Regions from separate parts of the Homo sapiens genome. Here region 1 is linked to region 2. The links come from fine-mapping of genetic effects on gene expression. Tissue or cell type: whole blood. Region 2 holds a variant in brackets; the other region holds the start of a gene. All regions are shown on one strand. Distances are between the middles of the regions.

The links. PIP is the estimated chance that this variant, and not a neighbour inherited with it, causes the effect.
Region 1: CHLSN starts here. The variant in region 2 is fine-mapped to the expression of CHLSN in whole blood (TOPMed, PIP above 0.99).

Annotation. Positions count from the first base shown.
Region 1 is chr7:1,133,281-1,141,381 of GRCh38, forward strand. It overlaps CHLSN (cholesin), which reads right to left and starts at 4,967. Exons shown (of 5, transcript NM_001318252.2): 1 at 4,035-4,967. RefSeq lists silencers at 4,527-4,576, 4,587-5,036, 5,237-5,376 and an enhancer at 5,097-5,196.
Region 2 is chr7:1,042,020-1,050,121 of GRCh38, forward strand. All of the region lies in intron 2 of CHLSN (cholesin), which reads right to left. It overlaps GPR146 (G protein-coupled receptor 146), which reads left to right and starts at 2,527. Exons shown (of 2, transcript NM_001303473.2): 1 at 2,527-2,639. RefSeq lists enhancers at 1-157, 1,646-2,201 and silencers at 2,307-2,796, 2,977-3,026. The variant G/C (reference allele first, on the strand shown) is at 4,576.

The sequences.
Region 1 (8,101 bases), 91 kb after region 2:
AAGTGGAGGGAAGAGTGGGTGACCACTAAGGGGCACAGGGTTTCTTGTGGCAGAAGGAAAAAGTCTTAAAATTAGATTGTGGTGATGGTTTCACAATCCCTCGATATACTGCAAAAAAAAAAAAAAAAAAAAACTATAATCCCTCTCAAATTATTTACCATAAATTTAAAAATGTAACACCCAAGTGCGGCCAGGCACGGTGGCTCACGCCTGTAATCCCAGCACTTTGGGAGGCTGAGGCAGATGGATCACGAGGTCAGGAGATCAAGACCACCCTGGCTAACACAGTGAAACCCTGTCTCTACTAAAAATACAAAAAAAAAATTAGCCGGGCGTGGTGGCAGGCGCCTGTAGTCCCAACTACTCGGGAGGCTGAGGCAGGAGAATGGCGCGAACACGGGAGGCGGAGATTGCAGTGAGCCGAGATCAAGCCACTGCACTCCAGCCTGGGCGAGAATGAGACTCCATCTCAAAAAAAAAAAAAAACACCCAGGTGCTACTTTACGATAAATAAATAAATAAATGGGAGAAAGATCATTTGCTATAATGTTTGTTGTGAGACAAAATTTAGGCTGGAACACAGTGGCATAATCACAGCTCACTGCAGCCTCGACCACCCAGGCTCAAGCAATCCTCCCAACTCAGCCTCCGGAGTAGCTGGCACTACAGGTGTACACCACCACGTAGCTAACTCTTGTATTTTTTGTGGGAATGGGGTTTCGCCATGTTTCCCAGACTGGTCTCAAACTCCTGAGCTCAAGTGATCCTCCCACCTTGGACTGCTGGGATTGCAGGCGTGAGCCACCACACCTGGCCCCAAAATATATATATATATTTTTTTAATTCGCTGGGCATGGTGGTGCGTGCCTGTAGTCCCAGCTACTTGGGAGGTTGAGGCAGGAGAATCACTTGAGCCTAGGAGTTCAAGGGTGCAGTGAATCACGATCACGCCATGATACTCCAGCCTCGGCGACAGAGTGAGAGACTGTCTCTTAAAAGGGTGGGGGGCAAGGCTGAGCGCAGTGGCTCACACCTGTAATACCAGCACTTTGGGAGGCCGAGGTGGGCAGATCACCTGAAGTCAGGAGTTCGAGACTAGGCTGGCCAATATGGTGAAACCCCATCTCTACTAAAAATACAAAAATTAGCCAGGTGTGGTGGCGTGTGCCTGTAGTCCCAGCTACTCGGGAGGCTGAGGCAGGAGAATCACTTGAAACTATGGAGATTACAGTGAGCCGAGATCGCGCCACTGCACTCCAGCATGGGTAACAGAGTGACACTGTGTCTCTAAATAAATAAATAAATAGGCCGGGTGCGGTGGCTCACGCCTATAATCCCAGCACTTTGGGAGGCCGAGACAGGCAGATCACAAGGTCAGGAGATCGAGACCATCCTGGCTAACATGGTGAAACCCCGTCTCTACTAAAAAATACAAAAAATTAGCTGGGCATAGTGGCGGGTGCCTGTAGTCCCAGCTACTCAGCTACTCGGGAGGCTGAGGCAGGAGAATGATGTGAACCTGGGAGGCGGAGCTTGCAGTGAGCCGAGATCGCACCACTGCACTCCAGCCTGGGCTACAGAGTGAGACTCCTTCTCAAAAATAAATAAATAAATAAATACATAAAGAGTCATCTACCTGCCCTGTCTCTGACTCCTTTCCTTCCCCCATCCCATCAGGCTTTTGCCCCAAACACCCTACCACAATGACACCCACGTGGCTAAATCCCATTGCCAACTCTCAGTATGCAACTTATTTGACCTAACAGCGTTGGACTGTTGATCCTTCCTTCTCTCTTGACAGGCATTTTTCACTTGGCATCCAGCACAGACAGCAGAACTTCTGCTTTTGCTCCCACCTCTTAATCGCCGTGTCCTTGAACACTGAAGGACCCAGGCTTAGTGCTCAGCCTCCTCACTCCCTCGTGATCCCATTCAGTCATGTGGCTTCAAATACCAACTAGACGCTGATGACTTTGTTTCCTCTCTTTACAGTCTCTTATTAACCCTCTCCTTCAACTACACGCCAACTCAACTGTGTATATATATAGCTATAGTTGTATGTATATACATATAGTTATATATATATACATGGTCATATATGTGTACCTAGACATATATACACATATATATACTTGAACTCCTGACCTCTGTTTACACTGTTTATACACATATATCTACATGTGTGTATATATATGTATGTGTATGGCCGGGCACGGTGGCTCACGCCTGTAATCCCAGCACTTTGGGAGGCCGAGGCGGGGAGATCACTTGAGGTCAGGAGTTTGAGACCAGCCTGGCTAACATGGTGAAACCCCATCTTTACTGAAAACACAAAAATTAGCTGGGTGTGCTGGCACCTGCCTGTAAACCCAGCTACTCGGGAGGCTGAGGCAGGAGAATCGTTTGAATACGAGGTGGAGGTTGCAGTGAGCCGAGATCGCGCCACTGCACTCCAGCCTGGACAACAGAGTGAGACTCCACCTCAAAAAGAAATATATATATATATATATATACACAATTTATTTATTTATTTATATAAAATAAATATATAAATATATTTACATAAATATGTATTTATATAAATATATAAAAATATATATGAATATATAAATATATAAGTATATATAAAAATATATATAAGTATATATAAATATATAAGTATATATAAATATATATAAATATATATAAGTATATATAAATATATAAGCATATATAAATATATATATAAAATATATATGTATATATAAATATATGTATAAATATATAAGTATATATAAATATATATAAATATAAGTATATATAAATTTATATAAATGTGTATATAAATATATATACATAAATATATATAAATATATACATAAATATATAAATATATATACATAAATATGTATAAATATACATAATTATAAATATATACACAAATATATAAATATATATAAACATATATAAATATATAAAATATATATAAATATATATAAACATATATAAATATATAAAATATATATAAATATATATAAACATATATAAATATATATAAACATAAATATATAAATATATAAACATATAAATATATATAAACATATATATAAATATATATAAATATATAAACATATATATAAATATATATAAACATATATATAAATATATATAAACATATATATAAATATATATAAACATATATAAACATATATAAATATATAAACATATATAAACATATAAATATATATAAACATATATAAATATATATAAACATATATATGAACATATATAAACATATATAAACATATAAACATAAACATATATAAACATATATAAACATATATAAATATATATAAATATATAAAAATAAATATATATATGCGGATGTGTGTATAAACTGTGTATATATATAACTATATATATAACCATATATATGTACTTATATATATCATCTACACATATATCATCTCAAGCTTAAGAATTCGTAATCAATACCCCTGATCACCCTCCACAAACCTGAGCTTCCTAGTGTTCATCCTCTCCATAAACATCCATCTGATGAGGTTCACATAGTAGCTCAAGCTTAAAACCTTGGTCCATCCATAAATCCTCTCTTTCTCACATACTCGTCCAACCCACCACAAACTCCTGTTGGTTTACCACTGAAATACACCCAGAATGTGACTCCCTTAAGATCCCATAGGTACCCAGTCCAAGCCACCACCTCTCACGATGGCTTTTAAACTCCTAAATCAGATGGTGTGTCACCTCCACTCAAAAAACTTCCCAAGCTGTCCCCTTCCACTTGGAGGGAAAGTCAAGGTCCTTGCCACTTGGTAAGGTCCACACGACTGCCCTGGCCCCTCCTCGCATCTCTGGGAACTCACCTCCTCTTTCTCTCTCTGTTCCCAAATTGGCTGCAGCCACACTGGGCTCCCTGCTGTTTCCCCTGCACCTGCTGTTTCCTCGACCTGGAATGTTCTGGTGCCTCACTCCTCCTCCTGCTTCCTTTCCATTCTCAAAACCCCTGTTCTCATCTTCTCCATGGCACTTACCATCACCTGCTCTGTGCACCTTGTTCATCTGTCTCTCCCCTCCAGAATGGAAGTTCACTAGATCACAGACTTGTCTCCACTTGTTGACAGCTGTAGCCCAATGCCCCGAACAGTGCAGGAGGAACCCAATGAACGTTTTTTAAAAATGAATGAATGAATGACGGAAGGAAGGAAACGGAAAGCATGCTTATGATGGAAAGTGAGGCCAAGCGCGTTGGCTCACTCCTGTAATCCCAGCACTTTGGGAGGCCGAGGCAGGAGGATCCATCGCTTGAGCCCAAGAATTCGAGACCAGCCTGGGTAACATGGTGAGACCCCATTTCTACAAAAAACATTTTTAAAAATTATCCGGGTGTGGTGGCGCGCGCATGTGGTCCCAGCTACTTGGGAGGATGAGGCGGGAGGACGGCTTGAGCCCAGGAGGTGGAGGCTGCAGTGAGCTATGATCACGCCATTGCACTCCAGCCTGGGTGGCACAGCGAGACACTGCCTCAAAAATTGAAAAAGAGAAAGTGGGAGCTGAAAGCCTCGGAGGGCAATCAGGGCGTCTTCAGAGAAAGACAATGAAACCAGAGCCACTGCAAGCCCTGACGGCCTGAAACCTAGGAGCCAGCTGAGTCCCTTCCACTCGCCCGCGCTGAGTTAACCCAGAGGCGGGTGCGGGTGTCGGAGCCCGCGCCGGGACGCACCGGCCGCACCGGCCGCACCAGCCTCCCCAGCACCGCGGACCCCAGGGCCGCCGCCCGGTCGCGCCGCGCCGGGCCTCCGCGCACCCACGTGGAGGGGGCGGAGCCCCGCGGGAGCCCGCCCCGGGGCTCTGGGTCTCCTGGCGCCCTGACCCGCCGGCCACCCCGCCGCCGCCCCACGCGCCTACCTGCGCCCACCTGCGCCCACGTCGCCCACCTAAGCGTGAACAGCTGCGTCGCGGACGCCGCCTTCCGGCAGGGACCCGCGCCCCAGGTAAGCGTTAGTCCCGCCTTCAGGAGTGCGGAGCCTCCCATTGGACGAGGTCTGCGTCCGTCTCTCCGCCGGCTAATGGCAAGCGGCGGCAGCACGGGGGGCGGTTCCAGGACCGGGCGCGGGCTACTGACGCCATCTCTAGAGGCCTAGAGTTGCTTGGAGAGGAGCTGGTTGCCAAGGCAACCCGCCCTGCCCAGAACAAGTGCAGATGACTAGGTTTGGGCCCCGCAGGGCTTGGGGGTCTGGGGTGCAAGCTGCCCCGGCCGGGCTGGCGTCCCGGGGTGGGGCCTCCGCCGAGGGTCCAGGGTATGGAGCTCGGCTCGGAGTCGAAATGGATGAGCTACGGCTATTGGGATCAACAGGGCTAGGACTTAAACTTCGTGCTGAATTTAAAAAATCAGGATAGGTGCTAAAAAATACACAGGGTGGGTAGTGTTATAATAATGCTTGTGTCCGGGAGCGGTGACTCACGCCTGTGATCCCAGCATTTTGGGAGGCCCAGGCGGGCGGATCGCTTGAGCTCAGGAGTTCGAGACCCGCCTGGCCAACATGACGAAACCCCGTAACCCCGTCTCTGCTAAAAATACAAAAATTAGCCAGGCGTGGTGGCAGGTGCCTGTAATCCCAGCTACTCGGGAGGCTGAGGCAGGAAAATCGTTTAAGCCCGGGAGGTGGAGGTTGCAGTGAGCCGAGATCGTGCCACTGCACTCCAGCCTGGGCGACAGAATGAGACTCTGTTTTAAAAAATAAAAAATAAATTAAAAAAATAAAAATTAGCCGGGTATGGTGGCACGTGCCTGTAGTTCCTGATACTCTGGACGCTGAGGTGGGAGGATCGCTGGAGCCTGGGAGATGGAGGCTGCAGTGAGCTATGATCAAGGCACTGCACTCCAGCCTGGGCAACAGAGCCAGACCCCGTCTAAAAAAAAAAAAGAAAAAAAAGCATGCTTTCAAGTCACCCAGTAAGTTAAGTGCTTGGCAGCCGTATCAAGTATGATGTACGTTGCCTCAGGAATCCAAAGGTGACAAGCAAAGAAGGTGCACTCTTCCTTACTGGTAGAAGATTGTATTTGGTTCCTTTTTCTGCATAACAAATTAACCCAACATTTAGCAGCCTAAAAGAACATTTATTTTTTCATGGTATCCGCGGTCAGGAAAGTGGGCGTGGCTAAGCTCTGTGCCTTTGCCTCAAGGGTTCACCAAGTTGTGGTCAAGGTGTCCCCCCAGGGTTGTGGTTTCATCGGAAAGCTTATCTGGAATGATCCACTCCCAAGCTCACACACACGGATATTGTAAGGACTCAGTCCTCCAAGGTCATTAGAGAAGGGCCTCAGCCTTGCTGGCTGCTGCCCAAAGGCCACCCTCAGTTCCTTGGTACATGGGCCTTACCACAAGGAAGCTCACAACACTGCAGCTGGCTTGCCTTAGACGGTGCAAGCACACACAAGAGGAGGCACACACAAGACGCACATCACAGTCTCCTTGCACCCTAATCTCAGAAGTGACTTCCCTAGGCTTTTGCCATATTCTGTTCATTAGAAGTCGGCCGGGTGCGGTGGCTCACACCTGTAATCCCAGCACTTTGGGAGGCTGAGGTGGATGGATCACTTGAAGTCAGGAGTTCAACACCAGCCTGGCCAACGTGGCAAAACTCCATCTCTACTAAAAATACAAAAATTAGCCAGGCATGGTGGCATGTACCTATAATCCCAGCTACTCAGGAGGCTGAGGCATCAGAACCTATTGAACCCGGGAGGCAGAGGTTGCAATGAGCTGAGACCGCGCCACTGCACTCCAGCCTGGGCGACAGAGCAAGACTCCAGCTCAAAAAAAAAAAAAAAAAAAAAGTGAATCATGGCCAGGTGCAGTGACTCAGGCCTGTAATCCCAGCTCTTTGGGAGGCTGAGTCAGGAGGATGGATGGACACCAGGAGTTCAAGACCAGCCTGGGCAAACAGTAAGACCTCATGTCTACAAAAATAAAAATAGAAAATTAGCTGGGTGTGGTGGTGCACGCATATAGTCCCAGCTACTTAGGAGGCTGAGGTGGAAGGATTGCTTGAGCCTGGAAGATGGAGGCTGCAGTGAACTATGATCACACCACTGCACTCCAGCCTGGGTGAAAAAAAAAAAGGAAAAAAGGAAAATAATTTTTTTTCATTTTTATTTTTGGAAATTGATATGGTTTGGCTGTGTCCCCACCCAAATCTCATCTTGAATTGTATCTCCCATAATTCCCATGCATTGTGGGAGGGACCTGGTGGGACATAATTGAATCATGGGGGCAGTTTCCCCCATACTGTTCTCTTGGTAGTGAGTAAGTCTCATGAGATCTGATGGTTTGATAAGGGGAAACCCCTTTTGCTTGGTTCTCATTTTCTCTCATCTGTTGCCATGTAAGATGTGCCTTTTGCCTTCCGCCAAGACTGAGAGGCCTCCCCAGCCATGTGGAACTGTGAGTCCATTCAACTTCTTTTTATTTATAAATTACCAGTCTCAGGTATGTCTGAATAGCAGTGTGAATACTGACTAATACAGAAATGCTGAAAGGACTTGGATGCAATGACATCCCAGTGGCACTGAGCACTCCTGGCACCCAGAACACTGCTCCTAAATACCATCCCCCATGAATACGGACCAGGGCTCCTGGGAGAAATGGCTGATCCCAGGGCTGTGGCAGGGAGAGCTCAAGATGGGCCTTGAATAGGTAAATCTGAACATCCTTTACAAGATAGCCTTGTAAGGCTCTCTGGGGTCATCTTCACACATTCTCAGGCGATACCCTTGTCAGGCTATCTAGGGTCATCCTCACATACTCTCACGTCATGTCTGGCACCCGTCTTTCTTGGTTGTTGAGTCTTCCAAGAACAAGGACTGTCTTTCCATTGATTTGCATCTACTATTGTACCTTTCATGAAACACACATTTTTCTCTTTTCTTCCCAAAATAATACTTCATGAATCATGTTTTAAAGTTTTATCCAATATAGGTCTTACGTATGTCCTAAGTTTATTCCTATGTGTTTTATCTTTATTACCATTGTAAATGGAGTTTTCCTCTTCCATTACATCTTCTGATTATTGTTTGTGTGAATGAAGGTTTTTGATC
Region 2 (8,102 bases):
TCGGCAGTGCGCGGGGCTGCAGAATCAGGTGCACAACTAGGGCATCCCCCACCCGCAACACACACGGCACACAGGAGCCTCGGCAGTGTGCGGGGCTGCAGAATCAGGTGCACAACTAGGGCACCCCCCACCCGCAACACACACGGCACACAACCACAGAGGCACGGCCCCAGGCCAGGAGCGCACAACTGCCCTCAAATGCCCTCAGCAGCCACGGCACACAGCCACAAACACATGACCCCAGGCCAGGAGCACACAACTGCCCTCAAACACCCTCAGCAGCCACACAGGGGAGGCCACGTCCACGTGACTTCAACCATCAACACTAGACTAGGGTGCAACCGCGAAGCTGAGTCAGGGCCACACGCCCCCCTACGCCCCAATCTGTGCCCACCCTTCCCCCCACCAACTGAGTCTTGTACAGGGGCTGGCCAGGACCCTTGGATACGCAGCTGCAGCCTCTGGAGAGTGTTTACACCTCCAGCTACGAGTACTTATTGTGGTTCAGGTGGAGGGTGGTTCCCTCTGACGATCTCCCCAGGACACACACGAGCTTTCTGCCATTCTCCCTGGCAGGACTGGCCTGCTTGGCACAGGAAGTCTCTGCAGATAAGGCGGTCTGCAGTGACCTGAAAGCTCAGTGGCTCAGAGGAAGCTAACCTCTAGCATTCCCCAGCCACAGAGCACCCCTGTGGGTAGGACCCACAGAGCCTGGCATTACAGGGACCAGACAGCACGGTGCATACTCTGACCAGGGATTCTGAGGTCTTGGGCCATTTATACCATGGAGATAACGAAGCTTACTCTTAGGCGGGCTGCTAGGAGGGCCCAAAGTCCCAAACCCTGATCTAAAAAGCCAGAATACCCCTGGGTTCAAATCCTGGCTCCACGGCCTGCAGTGTGACCTGGGCTAAGTTGCTTAAGTTTTCACAATTAAATTTAAAATGCATGGCCGGGCACAGTGGCTCACACCTGTAATCCCAGCACTTTGGGAAGCCCAGGCAGGCGGATCACTTGAGGTCAGGAGTTCGAGACCAGCCGGACCAACATGGTGAAACCCCATCTCTACTACAAAAAAAAAAAAAAAAATTAGCTGGGCATGGTGGCACGCACCTGTAATCCCAGCTACTCAGGAGGCTGAGGCTGCAGTAAGCCAAGATCGTGTCATTGCACTCCAGCCTGGGCAACATGACAGAAACTCTGTCTTTAAAAAAAAAAAATATTAAAATGCACATGGTGACCTATCTCATTGACGCTAAGGCGTACTCTCACTTTATCATCTCTAATGTGAGGCTGCGCCTTAAAATCAGCAGTATGTCGGAATGCAGTGGGCAGAGGGCCTTCTTTTTAGTAATCCATAAAGTAATGGCATAGCTAACACTAATCAATCGTGTCTTAGGTTTGATGAAATACGGACGTATCTACCTCAAAACAATGGTTGAGGCTCAGAACAGAACCTGACACAGAATACGCCCTCAGGTATCGGTGTTGGCTGCTTGTGACTGACTTTGGCAAGTAAGATCAGTACCCGGCACCTCTGGGCACACAGGGCCCGGGCTGCATCCACTGTGCCAGGGACCTGGTGCCGGGCTGGGCAGCAAGTCAGTATCACATCAGCAGGCGTGGGCCGTGGTGAGCCTCTCCCTGCCCTCCCGCTGGAATAGAAAGCTGATCCCGACGTCCCACTCCGACCCACGGTCAGGAAGCCGTCCTGTCCAGGAAGGTGGCTGAGGTACATCCCTGAACACAGTAGGCCACAGCATCATGCAGCGGAGGGCCAGTGGCCGCTATTCTTCCTGCTGGTGTTCCACTCGGCCCGCAGCTCACAGCAAGTCTATGCGGAACTGTGCAACCCACATGCTTTGATTTTCAGAAATGTTCTTAGATCCTGAACCAGAATGTGCTGCAGGGGGGACTGTTTCACCTCAAAAATTACAGCAAAGTAAATGTCCTTGTTTCAACTTTTCCAATGTTTAACTTGTAACAATAGCTACAAAAGTAATCAGGCAGCAATGTGTTTCTTTAAACGGCTTTCCTGTGAGTGTTCCGTTTACAAAGAAAATCCTAAAACCAGGAAGTAATTGGTGACTTTGGAAACAGCAAGCAAACTTCGGTGAAGAAAGAGGGGCAGGTGTACCTGGAAGGACTAACTTGCAGCCACTCATTTCCTTTGGAGGGCGGTGGGGCCTGCACCCTGCAGATTAGGGTATATTCTGACTCAGCAAAATAGGCACCAGCGCCTGTAAAAAGAAACCGCGCTGGGCACTAAGAGAATTCTCAAAAACTCCCAGAGCCCTGGGTGTGTGTCCTCCCACAGGGAATCTCGCACGAGTTCGTCAAATGGCTGGTCTCAGGTTACACAACCAGCACTGCCTCCACCGCCACCGCCCCCCAACCTCACTGGTCCGAGCGGTTCCCCGCGGTCTAGCCGCGAGGGCGGGGCCGGGGGGCGGAGGCCAGGGCGGGACCAAGGCTGGGGGCGGGGCCAGGCATGGCTGCCGCTCGCCGGCCGGGGGCGGGGCCGACGGTCACGTGTGTACACAGGGCCCGGGCGGCGTGCGCGCCGTGAGCCCCGCCGCCTCCGCCAGCCCGAGCTGCCCGCCCGGCGGCGACTGCGCCGGCCGCCGCCCAGCAAGCCGGTGAGTGGGGCCCGGGAGCCTGGGTCGGGTCGGTGGGGCACACCCCAGTCTCCGCCTGGGGAGGGAGCCAGCCCCAAGCTGCTGTGGCTCCCACGGCGGGCGCTGCGCTTACTGGGACCCGGGTCCTCTGGCCGCTGCCCACTGCGGGGCTCCGTGCCCTTGCCAGGAGGGGACCGCTGTCCTCCGGCCGCGCTCCGAGCTGAGCCCCGGGGGCGGGCTTTCGGTCATTAACCTGGTGATGGCAGCTGAATCTGCTGCTGGCGTAGGCGGCACAGCGCCGCCACCGGCTCTCCCATGTCCGACAGGGCACCACTGATCCTGCTCTCCTGGGCCACTATGGTGACTGCTTTCGGCCCCTTCTGTGATTAGTATTTTAAAGTGAGTTTTGGATCTGTGTCTACATGGAGGTGTCGGATCTGCTGTCAGTTGTCTTGGACAGTTGGCAGGGCATGGGACGGCTCTTTCAAAGCTTCACTGGAAGGCAGTGCTCTCCAGCCGCCAAACCACCACTACCAGCAGCAGAAAACCCACTATTAAGTTAGTATTACAAACCTGGCAAGTCAGTTCTCTAAATTAGGCATAAGTCTATGAATCTTGATGTGACTGGTCACAGTGGCTTATCTCTGCATGCATGCTACGTGGTGGACCAGAGGATAATTCTGTATTCGTCGTCCACAGCCTTTGATCTCTTCCCTGCCCATGAAGATGTACTTGAGTCCTCCATTCCACTTTAAATAGCCAGCTCCTGTCCACACGGAACAGCACGACATCTTTTATCTTTTGCTACCTGCAGCACCTAGCAGAGGCCAGCATTCAATAACAGAGGGCCAAGAGGCTTGCTTTAAAGGCCTCTGCAAACTTGTATGAGTAAAATGGTTCTGACCATGTTCCCAGGCTCCTCACGCATAGTGGTGATGAGATAGTCTACCGTCCTAACTGGGGCACCGTTGAGAGTGAACGGAGGCACTGTTAATAATTAGACGAAGTGCACACTCACAGTACCCATGACCTGCTGTGCAGCTCCTTCAAGAACTACTGTAAGGCCTGGCTCCCCAACCAGAACCCCTGTTGTCTTCCTCAATGAAGAAGGCCTCTGAAGACAAGTGACTTAAGAACATAGTTTATATGTATTGAATACTGTTGTGCCTTTTCACAGAGAAGAGGTCGGGGCCAGAGCAGCTCACTGCCCGACGCCACACACATCCGTGCTGGCGTCCACGTGTCATCCTGCCTCTCTAGCCAGCATGGACATATCCTGAGGATGGAGGACAGAGGAACACAGATTTAGGGCAGAATGTAAATGTGAAAGTTGACTTGGAGTCCCTGCAACTCATAAGCCCCAGTAGGCTGATGAAGAGAGAAGGGCAAAGGGCGCGCACCTCATGTGGGTCTTAGGTTAGGATGTAAAGGCTGATTATGTCTATCATACAATGAATCAATGGCATACTGCACAGATCGCTGCATGGGGAAATATGCTCGTGTAATTTACAGTCGGAAGAGGGACATGCTGCTCACTGGGGCAGGGAGAAGAAGGGGCTCCTCAGGGAGCTGCAGCTCTCACAGCCCCTAGGATGTCACCTGGAATCCTGAAAAAATAACTGCCGCCTGGCCTTTAATGACCCAACCACAGCGAGGTCTTGCCTTTGCAGAAGGAAATTATCACCCAGAGAACCCGGCCGACCGTGTCATGCACACGACGATCCCACGGTGCTGTTTTCTGTCAACAGTGTTTCCCAGCCATTCCCTCCTGCCTGCCAGCTCCTCTGCTCTCCAGGGCTTTCACTAACCCACCTGCCCAACTGACCAGCATTAGGCTGTCCAGTTAGCCCACATCTGTCCAGGGGTCTCAAAGGCTCAGGACCCCAAGACACCATCCAGGTAGCCAAGAGGACAGGGAACCCAGTCTGGAGAGTAGAATAACGTTTCGCTCCAATTT[G/C]AGATCCCAAAATGAGATGCTGCCCGGGACCAGAAGTCAGTTTCTTAGGAGCGTGCTGTCTACCCAGGAGCCTCCGTGTGCAAACAAAATACCCCCTTGAGCAGCAGAGGGACAAGGTGGAGGTGGGGCAGGTGTCTGTTCATCCCCACAGAGCCACACCCAGGTCCCTTCCTGCAAAGGCCAAGGACTTTCCCCATTTTAATTGGAACCAAAGCAAGCCTTGCAGACCACTGTCGCTACCACAGCTAGTGTGATGAGGAGAAATAACCTGCTGGCTCCTCCCTGGGAAACAACCAAGGTGGTGATAAGATCTGCGGCTCAGAGCACTTCCCTGCAGGTTAAGGCCACGCCTAGTAAACCGGGGCTCGACTGAGGAGCCCCGGCAGGTGCCAAGCCTGCCCAGAGTCTGCAGTAGAGACTCTCTGTTCTTGGCCATGTCTTTGAATTTCTGAGGAAGTCTTTTTTGTTTGTTTTTGTTTTTCCCTGGTCTGATGTACCTGGAGAGGGAATTAGCCTCACACCCAGTTAGGGAACAAAAAGCCAAGTAAACAAAAGAATGCTGTTCCACCTTCCTCCAGGGAACTGGCGCCCATAGCTGCAGGCACAGGTGCCCAGCCCGCTCACTGGCCCAGCAAGGTGCTTGGTCTCAGGCCCCCAGAGCCCGTCCTGGAGCCGCAAACATGCTCGCTATTATCCATGGAAAAAGAGAGGCATTCTCTTTGTTTATAGTCTAAGCCAAGTCACCTGATTCACTCTCACTACTCTGCAGTTTGGAATTGTAAAAAGCAAAAGGCTACAAAAATCAAAACCATCCACCTATGTAATGAACCATTTCTTATCACAGCCCAGGAAGGCACAGATAGGAATCAGTGTGCGTAAGCTCTCCACGTGGAAACCCTGTGAAAACAGCAGCCTTTCCTAAGCATCTGGCTCCTAGGAGCTGGATGTTAATTGTTGCTAAAGCCTGGGTTCATTACTACAAAAGAAAATAAACATTCCAGAGTCATTTTGAAAGCATTTTGATTGTTCTAGAATATTCACCCAAGGTTGAGCGTCTCATGGTGCATGGCAGGTTCGGCCAGGAGCTGGCCGTGGCCTTTCCACTCCTTTCCTGCCATCCTGAGGATGCAGTGCCTGGGGCCTCGCAGTTCTCTTTCCACTCAAATCTAAGGCTCTAAAGCTTCAACAACTGTCCGGGGACAATAAGAAGCGCTGAGTCCCCATCCTGCCTGCTCTCCTTTCTACTCAGTGGGGAAATTGGATCACTCGCCTTGGTGGATCACTCGCCTTGGGGAAAAGCCTTTTACGTCACTGAATACATCCCCTTCTACGGTTTTCATCCAACAGTCAGCCAGGCTGCTGCAGCACACATAAAAACTTCCCCTGCCTGCAAAGAGCTCCAAGTAGGTGGGAAAGAGATGGATGTGCGGACAGGCTTAACCCAGCAAAGACTGGCGGAGGGGTGTGGAGACAGTGGTCAGGGGTGGGTTCCCGGGGGTACTGATGCCCAAAATAAAATGTCAAGGACGAGCCAGTGTTTGCTGAGAGAACGAGGGGAAGCGAGAAAGGGTGTTCTAGGCAAGGGATCAACATCCGCAAAAGACAGTGTGAAAGAGAGCACCCGGAAACTTCGTGGGGATCACCGGGCGTGGGACTTGCCGGCCCCAGCTCTGACAGGGCCCTAAGCAACAGAGGAAAGAACTTCCCGACTAACAGGGACAGCAACATCAAAAGCGATGGCTTTTGTGAAACTAATTCAGCCACCTTGGAGCAGAGGATTCCTCTGCTGGTTTCTGTTTCTGCCAGCTCTGTGCAGTGCAGGCGCTATGATGCTCTCTCTCTCTCACACACACATACAGGGACCCGGGTGCCTCTCAGGTTGAGAGGGGTGGTCACCATCCCCACACTCAGGCCCCCTCTGTCTCCAGGCCTGCTGCTTCTGAACAGGCCTGGGGCAGTCCATTTCTATTGGGAAACCCTATCAAAGTTAGCCCCGGGTTTCAGCCAAGTTCACCTCACTGCTCACAGACATTCATTATTAACAGACTGTTTGATAGCACTTTGGGCTCTTTTTAAATAAGACATAGGAAGAAAGATGCCAACGTCTCACTTGAAATGCTCCTGACAGCTAGCCTGACGGGGTCCTGTCGCCCCTGTCCACACCCTGCTATGGCCATGGTCTCCACAGCCGCACATGGGCTCCAGACATTTTCACGAGTTATGAACCAAAGAGAACCAAGACCCCTGGAGCAGGTTCTCCTTCTCAGTCCCATGTTCCTTTGAAAGCAATGAATAGAGGCCAGGGAAGCAAGTGTTTATACTCCAGTTTAGTACTAGTGAAACATCGGGAAATTCATTGTGTTGGTATCAAAGCCCCAACTCAGAACATAAAAACCATAAAACTGCAAAGCCTCTGCAGTCTGAGCGTGCGCTCCCCAGGCCTCCGCTGTCTGAGCGTGCGCTCCCCAGGCCTCCGCGGTCTGACCCTGTGCTACCCATGCAAGCGCCACCCACAGGTGCGTCCTGGGGGCTGCCTCCTCCTCCACGTTGGCCAGCAGTGTGGGGTGTGACGGGGCCCATGTTGTTGTCACCCCCACCCTGCCCCACGTTTCCCCTGCACACGTGTCCGTTCACAAAGATTCTGAGCAAAAGGTCACAGAACAGCTTCCTCTGCCCTTTATATGTGGGGAGGAGGCCAAAGATCTGCAGGCGTCATCATTCCAGGCCAGGGCTGGTAACAGGGAGCAAGTGCCGGCACCCTCTTGTGCTTCACATGGGTTGGTTTACTTAACCCTCCTGTCTCATGAAGATTTTTACTAAGCCTGGGGAAACCGAGGCACACAGCAAGGATGTCACCTGCCTGCAAAGGCACCTGTGTGCAAGCCAGGACTGGAAAAGCTCAGCCTGCAGTGCACATGCTTGCTGCCCGCTCCAGAGCCCAGGCCCTTAACCACTTCCTTCCTAGGAAGACGGAGGGCGAGGGAGTTTCTTACAGCGCTTTATGTCAACTCCTGCTGCTGCCCACCACTAATCCAGGCCCCTGCAGACAGCAGGGCACGGTCCTTCCTATTAGCAGGCTTACTACGAAGCCCTGTCTAACATTCCCTCATGTCAGGTAGAAGGAATTAGACCAGAGGTCAAGGCAGCGGCTGGAATCAGTGGTGCTTTCTCAAAGTAGGAAAACAGTTTTAGGACTGTTTTCGGTCAAATTTTGGGCACCACTGTACTGGGTTCTATGACAGAGAAGCCACCAAGGTCCCGTGCGAGGAGCCCTGGGCAGGGACAGCTGAAGCTGTGCACCTGGGCCCTCCTGATTGCCTCCCACCAGCCAGGCCTGGCAGCAGCCAGCAGCCACCCCACCCCACCCCAACAAGGAGAGCTGCCCCACACTGTCGGCCCCCAAAGCTCAGGACACACGGGCCCTCCCAGGTCTCTCTGGCGGGCTAGGCCTTGGCAGGGCCCCCTCAGCGGGCCCCACTCTGAACCGCAAGCACAGGGTCTTCTGCAGTGTGAGACCTGCTGTCAGC